2 separate regions of the Homo sapiens genome follow, and region 2 is reported to be linked to region 1. The links are microRNA targets in miRTarBase. Many come from high-throughput screens and were not tested one by one. Region 1 holds a microRNA gene; the other region holds the end of a gene's coding sequence.
Evidence for each region. The annotated mature microRNA hsa-miR-6499-3p reads AGCAGUGUUUGUUUUGCCCACA and lies in region 1 at 1,466-1,487, shown strand. An mRNA with a match to its seed (bases 2 to 7 or 8) in the 3' UTR can be bound and repressed. Matches are read on the target gene's strand: a 7mer-m8 pairs with bases 2 to 8, a 7mer-A1 pairs with bases 2 to 7 and ends in A, and an 8mer does both.

Region 1 (3,120 bases):
CCCGTACTTCCACTTCCATGCACTGGGAGGCACCATAGGCCAGCAAAGAAAAACACAGGCTATAGACACAGATAGGTATTCAGATTCTGCTCAGGCCTTATCTGCTGCTGTATGACCTTGGGCAAGTTACTTCACCTCTTTGAGCCTCAGTTATATTTTTTGTAGGATGGGTGACTTGATAGTACCTATCTCATAAGAAGGATAAACTAGGATAATGTATTTACAGCATTATCATAGTTTATCTATGATAATGACTAGCATTGTACTCAGTTAATGTTAGCTATGTATTATATATAATCGGTAGTAGTAGTATTGTTGTAACTAATGTTAGCTATACATTATAATTAACAGTAGTGTTAATTATTATTGTTGCTATTAATATCTCTTCGGTGTTATGCATGACTTCCAGCAGTAGGTGTAATCTTATCAACTTTCTTGTACATTAAAAGTGTTGGAGTGCAGGTGAACAAGATATTACTACAGGGAAAATTGTGGAGACCCTCGTTGACAGCTGAGGAAGTGATAACATCACTGAGGAGAAGAAGGCAAGCCTGTCCTTTCTAAGTCAGGCAGGAAGTTGCAGGGATGTGTGGTGAAACATGAAAGGAAAATGCGTTTATGATTTACATTCTTTTCCCTACTTAAGTGAGGTCCTGTCACCCTCACGGCTTTTCACAGTTCTGACATTAACTGCAACCCTGCGCGTGCCAGCCCATCAGTGAGGTCAGGCCTGCTTCCCTGCCCACTTGCTCCAGCACCAGTGACCCCGTCTGTGCTGTTGAACACACCGCCTTCATTCCTACCCCAGGACCTTACACTTGCTGCTCCCTCTGTCTGTCGCCTCTTCTTCTCATCCCTCAGGACTCAAATGTCACTCCACAGAGACTCCTTCTCTTCTACCTGATCAAAGTTAGGTCTCTGTTTATTTCCTTCCCAGCATTTTATCCAAGTTATTTGGTAACTTATTTATTGTCTCTTTTCTCCTGGCCACAGCAGAAGACTTCGTTGACTGACTAGAAGGACAAATCCCGACTCCCACTCCAATCGCATAGCAAAAGGGAATCCCAAGGGGAATTTTCGTAGGCTGAGCAGGGTGCATGGTGCATCAGAATTGCTGAGACATCTGAGGGCGCCCTTGAGGACAGGGACAGAATGAGAAACTTCATGAGGAAGTTAGCCCAAGTCTATGGCTGGAGAGATTTAGGAAGAGGCTCAGAGAGATGTCACATGAGGAAACTGCATTGTTTTACTGCATGGTATAGGATGTAACTCCCTCCTTCAATCTCTACAAAACCTTCAGAAAATCTTTCTTTTCTGTCAGTGCTTTTGGAGTTAGGTTTTTTTTTTCTAAATGCAACAATGCGCTGAGCCAGCCCTCAAGTTGGGCGTGGGGCAGAGAAACGTAGCTCCACAAGGAGGCCCAGCCTCAGTCGGGCGCAAGAGCACTGCAGTTCTGTTGGGTGACAGCAGTGTTTGTTTTGCCCACAGGCGTCAGACAGTGGCATCCCTCCCCTCTCGTCTTTGACGTCTGTCCGTGTCCATGTCACAGAGCAGAGCCACTATGCACCTTCTGCTCTCCCACTGGAGATCTTCATCACTGTTGGAGAGGATGAGTTCCAGGGTGGCATGGTGGGTAAGATCCATGCCACAGACCGAGACCCCCAGGACACGCTGACCTATAGCCTGGCAGAAGAGGAGACCCTGGGCAGGCACTTCTCAGTGGGTGCGCCTGATGGCAAGATTATCGCCGCCCAGGGCCTGCCTCGTGGCCACTACTCGTTCAACGTCACGGTCAGCGATGGGACCTTCACCACGACTGCTGGGGTCCATGTGTACGTGTGGCATGTGGGGCAGGAGGCTCTGCAGCAGGCCATGTGGATGGGCTTCTACCAGCTCACCCCCGAGGAGCTGGTGAGTGACCACTGGCGGAACCTGCAGAGGTTCCTCAGCCATAAGCTGGACATCAAACGGGCTAACATTCACTTGGCCAGCCTCCAGCCTGCAGAGGCCGTGGCTGGTGTGGATGTGCTCCTGGTCTTTGAGGGGCATTCTGGAACCTTCTACGAGTTTCAGGAGCTAGCATCCATCATCACTCACTCAGCCAAGGAGATGGAGCATTCAGTGGGGGTTCAGATGCGGTCAGCTATGCCCATGGTGCCCTGCCAGGGGCCAACCTGCCAGGGTCAAATCTGCCATAACACAGTGCATCTGGACCCCAAGGTTGGGCCCACGTACAGCACCGCCAGGCTCAGCATCCTAACCCCGCGGCACCACCTGCAGAGGAGCTGCTCCTGCAATGGTAAGTACTACATCTTCCCTAGGGACGAGCAGCACTGCTGGGCTCAGCCCGCCTGACTCTAAGCATGGAGATTCCACTGAGGCTCTGTGGGAGAGTTCAGGGAAGTTTTAATAAGCCCAAAGGCCACCAATCACCATAAGACGGCTAGTGGCCTCACAAAATCTAGTTATGGAATAATACCCAATTCTCAGCTCCCTTTCGAGATTTAGAAAATAACAGTAAGACTACAATATGTGGTTTAACATCATGGCTAAGAGCATAGGCTGTGGCTTCAGTCTTCATGGGTTAAAATCCCAGCTCTACCCCTTACTAACCAGGCGACTTTAGGAAAATTAACCTCTCTGTGCCTTTGAGCTGGGCTGCTGTAGGAATTACATCAGTACTATGTATCAAGTGCTTGCTTAGAACAGTGCCTGACATATAGAAAGTGGTCAATACATGTGAGTTACTAATACTGCTACTATTATTACCATAGTCTGGTGGTTATAAGCTCAAGGCTTAGACTCAGACAGCTCAGGTTCAAACCCTAGCTCCATCAGTCACTAGCTGTGTAACTTTGGGTGTATTGTTAAAACCCTCTGAGCTTTTTAGTTTCCCATCTATAAAATAGTCAAAATAAATACATCTGCCTCCTGGAGTTGGGTTCGGGGGGGAAATTACGTAAGAGTTATAAAAGCACTTAACCCATGGCTGGCCCACAATAAGCCCCAGATCAACGGTGACTGTCATTCCCGTGGTAGCAGTTGCTATAGGGAGCCTGCTGTACGCCACACTCTGTGTAGATGTCACCTAAACTAATCGGCACCACAGCCCTACCAAGC
Region 2 (3,120 bases), not on the chromosome of region 1:
CAAGTATCTGCCCGCCTCGGCCTCTTAAAATGCTGGGTGGGATTACAGGCATGAGTCACCGTGCCTGGCCACCGTAAGTGTTTTCTATATTAAAAACAATTGCTAAATAATTTTGTATCTTAAGGATATAATATTATTTACTAGACCATTGCATTTTTATAAATTCATTTACAAGGATATTTTGTCTTATTTTCCCAGGCCTCAGCTGTGTCGGTATGATCTTGTCCTGATGGAAAACGTTGAAACAGTCTTCCAACCTATTCTTTGCCCAGAGTTGCAGTTGTAACTGTTGCCAGGACACATGGCCATAAATAATAGAAAGAAAGCTACAACCACAGGCTGTTTGAAAGCTTCACCTCACCTTTCTGCAAGGCAGAAAAAGTATGAAAAAAACCAAGGCTTTTTTCAGTAGCGTCCTATGGATGTCACATTGTACATCAAACAACCTTGTGATTATAAAACGATCCTGGGAAGGAGCCCCTAACTAGGGCAAGTCAGAAATAGCCAGGCTCGCAGCAGCGCAGCGCTGTGTCTGCTGTGTCCTGGGGCCTCCCTTGTTCCGACCTGTCAATTCTGCTGCCTGTCACGCGGGTGGTTCTGCCCATCGCGGCTGCGGGTCAAGCATCTTCAAGGGAAGGACGGACTGGAGGCCTCACCGTGGACTCAACTCTGCATTCTCCGTGCCACATTCCTCCAGTTCCCACACGTAGAAGGGAACGAAACTGACGTCTACCTCATGGGGCTGCTGTGTGGGTTTGGGAGGCAAAAATCTATGAAGGGTTTTTTGAAATCCCATAGGTGCCACATCTATGAGATGTTTGATAAATGTGAATATGCTTTTACATTTGGGCTTATCTAATTTGCAATAAGAGAGCCTCTCTCTATCAACACCAGCTTCTCTCTCGGGCTGTTTGCTCAGGGAAGGCAAGAAAGCCACGTGCTGGCCCTCTGCCTTCTCTAAAGTGCTGTTGGAGCATGGAGGAGCTGGAGGAGATGGGGATGGACTGACAGCTAAGAGGGCGGCTGCTGGGACTAGATAGTGGATGAAGAAAGAAGGACGAGGAAGCCGTGGGGCAGCCTCTTCACATGGGGACAGGGGATGGAGCATGAGGCAAGGGAAGGAAAAGCAGAGCTTATTTTTCACCTAAGGTGGAGAAGGATCACTTTACAGGCAACGCTCATTTTAAGCAACCCTTAAGAAATGTTTATGTTTCTTTATTACCAATGTAATCTATGATTATTGAAGGAAATTTAGAAAATGCGTAGATACAAAATTAAAAAAAAATACTGTCCACGATCCTATTAGAGGTAATTAATGTTAGCCTTTTGGAACAAGGCTGTCACCTATTTTGCCAACACGTGAATTCAAAACATGAACCGGTTTGCTTTTGGAGAATCTGAAGACTCCAGTTTGAGGAATCCTTTGCTTCCCTGGAGGTAGATGCTGTCTGCAAATCTAGAATGACAGCAGGAGTCCAGTCAAGAGGTCCTGTCAGGCCAAGGCCAGAAAGAAGGGAGGACAATCCCTGGGGCCAGATGCCCAGTGTGAGGGGAGGCATGATCTGTCCCATGGCTGTGGCCACTGCAGGAAGGTCTGTGAAAAGGAGGTGACAGGCCCAGTCACCTCCTCTTCACCCAAGTGATTGCTCCTTCAACTGCTATCTGTGAAAATAGCCTTTGTTATGAAGAAATTGACTCTCTCTCTCTTTTTTTTTTTTTGGAGTTGCCTAGGCTGGAGTGCAATGGTACGATCTCAGCTCACTGCAACCTCCACCTCCCAGGTTCAATTGATTCTCCTGCCTCAGCCTCCTGAGTAGCTGGGATTACAGGCATGTGCCACCACACCCGGCTAATTTTTGTATTTTTATTAGAGACAGGGTTTCACCACGTTAGCCAGGCTCGTCTCGAACTCCTGTCCTCAGGTGACTACCCGTCTCGGCCTCCCAAAGTGCTGGGATTACAGGCATGAGCCACCACACCCGGCCAAAAATGGATTCTCTATGTCATAAATTAAAGAAATCTATAAATGTATTCCTGTGTGGCACATCTTCTTACAGATTTACATTTGCAGCAAATACAGAGTCTGTTTTATTTAAGTGAGGGATGACTGAACTCTGAGTGGAACAAGCTCTTGGACATGTTACCATCCTTCCTCCTCCTTCTCACATTTCCTCAGCAATTGTGGATAGAGAGATCAGTGTGCTGTAGGCCCTGGTTTTTTTTTTTTTTTTTTTTTTTTTTTTTTAGATGGAGTCTCCTTCTGTTACCCAGGCTGGAGTGCAGTGGCACGATCTTGGCTCACTGCAACCTCTGCCTCCCGGGTTCAAGCAATTCTCTGCCTCAGCCTCCCAAGTAGCTGGGATTACAGGCGCCCCCACCATGCCTGGCTAATTTTTGTATTTTTAGTAGAGACCTGGTTTCACCATCTTGGCCTTGAACTCCTGACCTTGTGATCCACTGGCCTTGGCCTCTCAAAGTTCTGGGATTACAGGTGTGAGCCATCGTACCCGGCAGCCCTGGTTTCTTCTTAGTTTTATTGGTCTGTGTTTTGATCAGCACAGTCACTTTTTTGTTCTCTTTCCTGGTAAGCAGGGAGTCAAAACAATAGCAAGAAAATGCCAGAAATAGAATTTCTACTACTTTGTAAACTCTAGGCTCGTGGGTCTCCTAGCTCTCAGTACCTGGCTCACTGTAGGATGGGTAGATGGGTGAATGAATGGATAAAGAAAGGAAGTTTGTTCACCGGAGAGGAGATGAATTTCAGTAAGTTTCATGTAACAGTGATCAGGAGAAATAAAGGCAGTTATAACTGTGGCCACTCTGTTCTCAGAATCTTTCTTCCAAGGGCCCCTGGAACTTTTGACTGTCTCTTGTTATCCTTGCTTCTCTTCCCCTCTCTTTCTCAGTACCATATATCTGTCTGAGTGCCAAATTCAAAGCACAATTAAATTACAGTCTACCCTCTTCCCTCCCCTCTTCACTGGTGACCTCCTACTCATCATTTGGATCGTGGCTCAATTGCCACCTCCTCAGGGAGTCTTCTTGGACCTTATTTCCATACAGAGAGGTTCCACACTGTACCTCTCCTTCATAGCACTTTTTAGTTGTATTTTTAAACAT

Region 2: the mRNA of LIPH is a reported target of hsa-miR-6499-3p. Seed matches in the 3' UTR shown: 7mer-A1 at 1,581-1,587, 7mer-A1 at 1,760-1,766 and 7mer-A1 at 2,300-2,306.

The regions. Positions count from the first base shown.
Region 1 is chr5:151,520,455-151,523,574 of GRCh38, reverse strand. It overlaps MIR6499 (microRNA 6499), which reads left to right and starts at 1,427; the gene lies at 1,427-1,488. FAT2 (FAT atypical cadherin 2) reads left to right here. Exons shown (of 24, transcript NM_001447.3): 19 at 1,489-2,299. It also overlaps a transcript of SLC36A1 not described here. RefSeq lists an enhancer at 1,422-1,591.
Region 2 is chr3:185,505,956-185,509,075 of GRCh38, reverse strand. It overlaps LIPH (lipase H), which reads left to right. Exons shown (of 10, transcript NM_139248.3): 10 at 199-2,814. The coding sequence ends at 286. Among named protein-coding and RNA genes, the nearest start is that of TMEM41A-DT, 8.4 kb to the right of the region's middle.